2 separate regions of the Homo sapiens genome follow, and region 1 is linked to region 2. Evidence: fine-mapped expression QTL. A gene starts in region 2. The other region holds a variant in brackets. All regions are shown on one strand. Distances are from middle to middle.

Region 1 (4,391 bases), 170 kb before region 2:
ATATTTAGGATAGTTAGCTCTTCTTGTTGAATTGATCCCTTTACCATTATGTAATGGTCACTCAGGACTTGCTTTATGAATCTGGGTGCTCCTGTATTGGGTGCATATATATTTAGGATAGTTAGCTCTTCTTGTTGAATTGATCCCTTTACCATTATGTAATGGCCTTCTTTGTCTCTTTTGATCTTTGTTGGTTTAAAGTCTGTTTTATCAGAGACTAGGATTGCAACCCCTGCCTTTTTTTGTTTTCCATTTGCTTGGTAGATCTTCCTCCATCCCTTTATTTTGAGCCTATGTGTGTCTCTGCACGTGAGATGGGTTTCCTGAATACAGCACACTGATGGGTCTTGACTCTTTATCCAATTTGCCAGTCTGTGTCTTTTAATTGGAGCATTTAGTCCATTTACATTTAAAGTTAATATTGTTATGTGTGAATTTGATCCTGTCATTATGATGTTAGCTGGTGATTTTGCTCATTAGTTGATGCAGTTTCTTCCTAGTCTCGATGGTCTTTATATTTTGGCATGATTTTGCAACGGCTGGTACTGGTTGTTCCTTTCCATGTTTAGCGCTTCCTTCAGGAGCTCTTTTAGGGCAGGCCTGGTGGTGACAAAATCTCACAGCATTTGCTTGTCTGTAAAGTATTTTATTTCTCCTTCACTTATGAAGCCTAGTTTGGCTGGATATGAAATTCTGGGTTGAAAATTCTTTTCTTTAAGAATGTTGAATATTGGCCCCCACTCTCTTCTGGCTTGTAGTGTTTCTGCCGAGAGATCCGCTGTTAGTCTGATGGGCTTCCCTTTGAGGGTAACCCGACCTTTCTCTCTGGCTGCCCTTAACATTTTTTCCTTCATTTCAATTTGGTGAATCTGACAATTATGTGTCTTGGAGTTGCTCTTCTCGAGGAGTATCTCTGTGGCGTTCTCTGTATTTCCTGAATCTGAACGTTGGCCTGCCTTGCTAGATTGGGGAAGTTCTCCTGGATAATATCCTGCAGAGTGTTTTCCAACTTGGTTCCATTCTCCCCATCACTTTCAGGTACACCAATCAGACGTAGATTTGGTCTTTTCACATAGTCCCATATTTCTTGGAGGCTTTGCTCATTTCTTTTTATTCTTTTTTCTCTAAACTTCCCTTCTCGCTTCATTTCATTTATTTCATCTTCCGTTGCTGATACCCTTTCTTCCAGTTGATTGCATCGGCTCCTGAGGCTTGTGCATTCTTCACGTAGTTCTCGAGCCTTGGTTTTCAGCTCCATCAGCTCCTTTAAGCACTTCTCTGTATTGGTTATTCTAGTTATACATTCATCTAAATTTTTTTCAAAGTTTTCAACTTCTTTGCCTTTGGTTTGAATGTCCTCCCGTAGCTCAGAGTAATTTGATCGTCTGAAGCCTTCTTCTCTCAGCTCGTCAAAGTCATTCTCCATCCAGCTTTGTTCCGTTGCTGGTGAGGAACTGCGTTCCTTTGGAGGAGGAGAGGCGCTCTGCGTTTTAGAGTTTCCAGTTTTTCTGTTCTCTTTTTCCCCATCTTTGTGGTTTTATCTACTTTTGGTCTTTGATGATGGTGATGTACAGATGGGTTTTTGGTGTGGATGTCCTTTCTGTTTGTTAGTTTTCCTTCTAACAGACAGGACCCTTAGCTGCAGGTCTGTTGGAATACCCTGCCGTGTGAGGTGTCAGTGTGCCCCTGCTGGGGGTTGCCTCCCAGTTAGGCTGCTCGGGGATCAGGGGTCAGGGACCCACTTGAAGAGGCAGTCTGCCCGTTCTCAGATCTCCCGCTGCGTGCTGGGAGAACCACTGCTCTCTTCAAAGCTGTCAGACAGGGACATGTAAGTCTGCAGAGGTTACTGCTGTCTTTTTGTTTGTGCCCTGCCCCCAGAGGTGGAGCCTACAGAGGCAGGCAGGCCTCCTTGAGCTGTGGTGAGCTCCACCCAGTTCGAGCTTCCCGGCTGCTTTGTTTACCTAAGTGAGCCTGGGCAATGGTGGGCGCCCCTCCCC[C/G]AGCCTCGCTGCCGCCTTGCAGTTTGATCTCAGACTGCTGTGCTAGCAATCAGCGAGACTCCGTGGGCGTAGGACCCTCCGAGCCAGGTGCGGGATATAATCTCGTGGTGCGCAGTTTTTTAAGCCGGTCCGAAAAGCGCAATATTCAGGTGGGAGTGACCCGATTTTCCAGGTGTGTCCGTCAGCCCTTTCTTTGACTCAGAAAGGGAACTCCCTGACCCCTTGCGCTTCCCAAGTGAGGCAATGCCTCGCCCTGCTTCGGCTTGCGCACGGTGCACGCACCCACTGACCCGCGCCCACTGCCTGGCACTCCCTAGTGAGATGAACCCGGTACCTCAGATGGAAATGCAGAAATCACCCGTCTTCTGCGTCGCTCACGCTGGGAGCTGTAGACCGGAGCTGTTCCTATTCGGCCATCTTTCCTTTTTCCTCCTGGGCCTCTTTCATAGAGCCACCCTCATGACCTAATCACCCCCCAAAAGGCCTTGCAGGTGAGGATTTCAACATAAGGATTTTAAGGGTACACAAACATTCAGACCGCAAAAGGGCCCTGAATCTCCTTCCCTCAGCTAGTGTTCTCCAGCCCAAGATTCAGCCAAGGGGAGGACATATGACTCAAGTTTGGACTCTTTGTCTATATCAGTTTTTGCTCTGGTAACAAACAGCCCCCGAATCTCAGTGACTTAAGACCAGTAACACATATTTTTTGCTCCCACGTCTGAGGGCGGGCTTTGACATGGCTCACCTCTCACCCAGCTGTGGCCCCTCTCTGGGAGATGCTGTTCTCCCGCAGAGAGGAGCAAGAGGCTGATGTAAAGCACTCAGGTGCATTTCAGGCTGCCCACACCTGGCACACGTGATGCCCACTCACATTCCATTGACCAATGCAAGTTATATGGCCAACTTGGACGCTGAGTAGAGTGGGATGGATCAACCTCGCTGCAGGGATGGAGTGGATAATTGGGAGCAGTAGCACACATCTACCACCATCCCCCGACTTTGACTTGAGAAGCTGGGACATGGACTCACTCAGCCACGGGCCCTGCTGAGCAGCTCCTGCCTCCAAACTGCCCATGCTGGCTGGCTCCTGTCTTTCCCATATGGCCTCTTCAGCCCTCTCGACAGCCCCATATGTGCATGCCCCGTCTCTTTTCATTCAGTTCCTCTTTGGGCTTATACTGGCCGCAGTCAGCTTCTGTGGCTTGCAATAATAATAATTTAAAAAACCCTCATAAGCTGACACATAGTAACCACAAATTGGGGTGATGCTAGCAGAATTCCTTTTTGGAAACGAGAGGGCTAACAATTTATATTTGCAGACAGTGCGATAAATGTGGTTGACAAGGGGAATCCAGGACAAGGGCCTGGAAGGAAGCCCAGGGGCCAGAAGAAGAGACACGAGGGTCTCCACAGGGGAGGTGGGAAGACAGCAGAGACCAACTTTGCTCATATCTCCACTTGGCCAGCTAAAAACATTTGAAGTCCTAGCCCCAGCCCCAGCCCCCAGACACCTGCATGCATCCTCTGAGGTCCCAGGCCCCAGCAGGATGGAGGCTTCCTCTTACTCCCCTCTAGTTCCCAGTTTCTCAACCCTGACTGCATATTAGAAACCTCTGGGGAATTCAAACAAACAAAGCCCGGGTTCCTCCCCAGCCCAGTTAAATCAGGCGCTCTCAGGGTGGGCCCTGGCCATGGGCATTTTTAAGAGCTCCCCAGGTGACTCTAATGAGCAGCCAGGGTTGAGACCCACTGCCCCACTTCTCCTGAACTCTGCAGTGCGTGGAGAGGCCAAGGGACTGGGAGCAAAGCCAGAAACAGGAAAACGTAGGCACTTTACAGCCTTAGGTTCCTATTTAGCAGCTTCCAGACATATTTTGTTTGATCTGCAGATAATACATTTGAGCTAACATTTAAAAATTGGGAGATTTCACATTATCCAGATTCCTTTTGTTTTTGGTTGAAAAATCTCAAGTTCTGGCATCTCAGGGCTTCTGCAACACATGACTTACACAGATGACAGGCCGAGTCCTCACAGGTAACCATCTATTCCTCGGTCCTAAATCCCTTTCTTGAGCACTCGGCCAACTGTGATCCCACTAGACCCCTACGCCTAGGCAGATACCTCAGCAGGACCAACTGAGGGGCCAAGTGCCAGCTGGGGGCTTTCTCCTCACCCCACGCTGCTCACTCCAAGTTCCTCTTTGGGTTGGTTTTTATTATTTTGGAGTTGTTGTTTTGGCTTTTAGTCACATTTAAAATGTGTTTTAAAAATCATTTTTTTGTTATATGAATTTTAGATAATTTGGAATATACAGTAAAGTATAAAGAAGAAAATGAAAATCACCTATCATCTTAACTGCCTTTTGGGTTCTGAATACACAAAGATTCTACGAT
Region 2 (4,391 bases):
ACTTCCACACAATGTATTTTAATGAGTTTCCTTTTTGTTTTTGCTTTTTAAAAAAAAATTTTAAGGGGCCATGCTAATCTTCTCTGTATTATTCCAATCTTAGTGTATGTGTTGCCAAAGCGAGCACTTTTTTTTCCCTGAGACTGAGAAGAAAGTTAACTGGATTATGGAGAAATGCAATCACATCTATTGACTGGTTTTGACCTGACTGCGTCTTAAACACTTCCTTGTACCTTAATATACTCATTAAAAGGAGATATAATCCATATAATGAACAAATGTTTTATTATGCCATTTTTACCATGCAGTTAAAACAACCCAACCACTTGTTAATCAAATTTTAAACCATAAACTCTTAAAGTGGAACTAATAACTCTCCACAAACAACAAAATATCAACATGGTCAAAGTGGTCAAAGATAAAATAAATAGTACATATTTTAAAACATCCTGCAGAATTCAAAACCCATAAACACAAACGCACCAAAAAATAAGGCCCAAATAATCAATGACACTTACTAGTACACCAGCAGCAATGGAAGCAATAGTATTGCGCTTTTCCCCCCAGTCAATGCATTCTGAGCATCTCAAGCCCTCTAGAAATCCAGACATTTTTTTCAGGTCACTTAAAAACAAACAAACAAACAATTAAATAAGTACTTCCATTTACTTGCTTCAAGCCCGAAAAATAATTAATAGCTCAGGAATAATTAGATAAAAGTGAAATTACAAATGCTTTATTTTGGTTCCACATACTTCTTCAGAATATTTGATTTAGTTTTTGATGAATTTCCACATTATAACTTTGGAAAGTAATATCTGGATTCATTTAGTATCTTTTTTAATGTAAAAAATGGTTTGGGGGCCGGGCGTGGTGGTTCATGCCCGTAATCCTACCAATTTGGGAGGCTGAGGTGGGTGGGTCACCTGAGGTCAGGAGTTTGAGACCAGCCTGGCCAACATGGCAAACCCCATCTCTACTAAAAATACAAAAATTAGCCGGGGGTGGTGGCGCATGTCTGTAATCGCAGCTACTTGGGAGGCTGAGGCAGGAGAATCGCTTGAACCTGGGAGTCGAAAGTTGCAGTGAGCCGAGATCGTGCCACTGCACTCCAGCCTGGGCGACAGAGCAAGACTCTGTCTCAAAAATAATAATAAATAAATAGAAATAAATGGTTTGGATATATTTAAGCAGTATTAACAAAGGTGGGTCTCCAAATATTGAAAAAATTTTAACTACTGGTTGACCTCCTCCTGAAAATCTGTCACATCCTATTATTTCTAAGTAGGTATTAAATTAGTTTAGGTGGTACTTTTAATACCAAGTATATGATTACTAATCCACAGGAGCTCTTTTGTATCATTTTGATTCCAAACTTATTAAATGAATTTGATATTTACAGTCCAGGAGCACTAACATTAGTAGAGAGACAAGTGATAAACTTTGGCTCTGAGTGGAATTACAGATTCAAATGAAAAATATTTCTCTAATTTACATATTTTATCACAGAACGTGTGTTTCTTCACACCTAAATCAAGAAATTAAACACTGCACTGCAGTTCTTACCTCTACCCACATCATTTCCTTTCACTTCATTCATTATTTTTCTTTCTGCAAGCCTGCCTTTTGGTGTCATTTCTATATAAAGAACATCCACTTTAATATCCCTATCTCTGATCCTAACGGGTGTTTCCAGCCAAAAGCAAGCACAGAATCGTGGTTAATAGTAATTCAGATTACAAAAATCCAACTGCTATTTAAATATAGCCGACCCAAGCTGTCTTTACAAATTATATAAAACATTCCTGTAAGCCGAGCAGTAGAGACCTGAGATACAGCCATGTTATCTCTATTTCAGAGTATGAAAAAGCCTGAAATACATATAACTTGCGAATAACAACACCCAAACTCCTACAGCGAACTTGACTTCCTTAAGATACTTTGTAGCCAGCAATTATGGTTGTCCAAAAATATGACACCCTACAATAGAGCAACGTCTCCCATTTTTAACTTCTCTTTTAAAAATTAAATATTAAAATATATGATTACAGCCAATGCTAAGATGCCTTTGGGACAAGTTCAATTTAGGAAATTCACTCATTTGATTCTTCCCCGGGAAGAACTGCAATTCAATAAGTGTTATTTTCGGTTCATCCCAATGGCCCCACCCCGAATCCATTTTTCTTTGCACGACGACTGGTACGCTCAAGCCAGACCCCGCCCTCCAAACTCTGGGACTTTTAGGTCTCGAGGGACGCCGCTGGAAGATGGGGGAGCCACCTTTAGCCGGGGCACCCCTCGCTGAGGGAGCTGGCCGGGTCACGCTCCTTTCTCGGGGCTTCGGCTTGTCCAGCTGTGAAGTGGGGGATCGGGGGATTTTCCAGGGATCCTGGGGTGTCCCGGGGGAGGGCGCGGTCCCCTCTCCGTCTTGGCGGGGTCTGGACGCCGTCGCCTTCTCCTGGCGCCGCCGGACCCAGGAGAGGAGAGGTCCGCGGCGGCTCAGCCCGGGTCTGCGGCTTCCGGGAGGGTGGCGGCAACGAGCCTGTGCTGTGGGCACCAGCCCGTCAGACGGCCCCGGCTCCGAGGCCTCTCCAGCCTGCGGCCGCTACTCTCTTACCCCCACTCCCCGCCCGACACTTACGTCCAGCCCCGTCGTGCAGTGGTTCCGGAGCCCGGTGTCGCGCCGCGCCGGCCCGCCTCACTCCCCCGATTTTAGCCAAGAAAACAAAACGGCCACAGCCTCCAGACACCCGGATGCAGCAGTACCATCCACCCGGCTCAGTCGCGCATGCGGACACGGGGCGGAGGGCGGGGCGCCGGGTCCGGAGGGAGCCACGCCCACCACAACAACGCGTCTGCGCATGCCCGGGCGCTGGGTTCAGGGGCTTTCCGCCGCTCTGGGTTCACAGCTGGACGTCGGGAGTGCTAGTTTGGAGTACGCCATTTGAGAGTAGGCGTGAGAAGTTGCTCTGTGTGCTGAGCGTTCTAAAGGAAGGCGTCCGTTGGCCTTCGTACCCGTCTTGAGTGAGGTGACGAGTGTTTTCTAGTACTGGGGTCGGCCGCGCAGCCCTCTCAGGGGTGGGTGGCAGGAAGAGTGCCGGGTCCCGCGTGGTGCAAAAGGTGGGTTCAGGTTTGCGGCCACACAGCGCTACTCAGGACTTTTTAGTCTTGTTTATTTTCTCCGTGCCTGTTCCCGCCCCCCGCAGCTCCACCTCTGGGAGAGGGGCGGGTTCAGCTCCAGGAGGCGGGGACTTCCCGGCTTGGCGTGGCTGGGGTGTCCCGTGGACCCCAGTCTCGGCGCGGTGACCCACTTATGGGACTTGGCCTTTCTTTGTTGTTTGTTTAAGGCAGGGTTTCTCAGCCTGGGCACTACTGAGGTTTTGGGCCGGCTAATTCTGTCTGGGTTGGGGAGGGTGCTGTCCCGTGCTTCGCAGGTTGTGTAGCTGCATCCCCCGCCTCTACCCAGTGGATGCAAGTAGCAGCCCCAGTGAACCAAAAATGCCCCCAGACTTTGCCAAATATCCCCTCCCGGGGAAGATCGCCTCGCTTGAGAACCACTGTTGGAGGAGAGCCTGGGTTTTCGGGAGGTAACCGTTTACAAAGGGGAGAACGGTAAGAAGCCGGAAGCAACGATGACTTAGCTACGTGAAAGACTTGCGGCCGGGCTCGCCCCTCTTCTAGAAGCCGTCAGTTTGGGTCTCGCGTCTGGAATCACCGTCAAGGAGTCAGATCCAGCCCCGGAGAGGGAGCAGGGTCGAGGTCTCCTTGCAGAAGGCGCCACCGCAGGAAGCACAGGCGCAACGTGCGGTCTCCCTAGCGGAGGCGCTCGCGATCCTGCAGCCGCCGGTCCGGGAGGTGCTCGGTAGCCCTCCTTGGTGCCTGTCCGGTAGCTGGTCACTCTCGGGGGAAGGTCGTGTGCAGAAGGGCACATGCGATCACACAGAGACGGCGTTGCTGCGGCTTTGACCCGATGGTGCACCCGAAAGAACACAGAGGGTGAAGGGAGAGATCCAGGAAGTGGTCGCGGAGCAGAACCCCCCTTCACTTCAGTTAAAAAGGTGGGTCAATTGTCGTTAAGAGATACGCACAGGTTCATCTGATTGACATGTACGGCGGCAGTATATGAGTGGGATGGGAACCAAGGTGACTGTTGTTTCCTTTGATGGATGAAACTTTCATCCCTTTGGGTTTTTTTGTTTGTTTTTGGCGGTGCATTAGCCGATTAGTAGATAAAACTGCATGACAATCTATAGCCTGTTTTTAAATGGACACGTTCTTACCACTCAGGAGGTTTATCGTGATTGTTTAATGTCTCAGGGTGGAGGAATCTAGTGCAGGCAGTTCTTAATGAAACCTTTTAAATTCCCGTTAGTGACTTAACATTAGTTTAC

Evidence for each region. PIP is the estimated chance that this variant, and not a neighbour inherited with it, causes the effect.
Region 1: its variant is the best candidate, but not a certain one, in a credible set for the expression of TMEM50A in whole blood (INTERVAL, PIP 0.82).

What each region holds. Positions count from the first base shown.
Region 1 is chr1:25,504,624-25,509,014 of GRCh38, reverse strand. No RefSeq gene overlaps it. Among named protein-coding and RNA genes, the nearest start is that of LDLRAP1, 37 kb to the left of the region's middle. RefSeq lists an enhancer at 1,605-2,514. The variant C/G (reference allele first, on the strand shown) is at 1,998.
Region 2 is chr1:25,336,707-25,341,097 of GRCh38, reverse strand. It overlaps TMEM50A (transmembrane protein 50A), which reads right to left and starts at 2,764. Exons shown (of 7, transcript NM_014313.4): 1 at 2,642-2,764; 2 at 519-624. The coding sequence starts at 611. It also overlaps a transcript of RSRP1 not described here and the pseudogene LOC124904723. RefSeq lists silencers at 2,815-2,934, 3,926-4,220.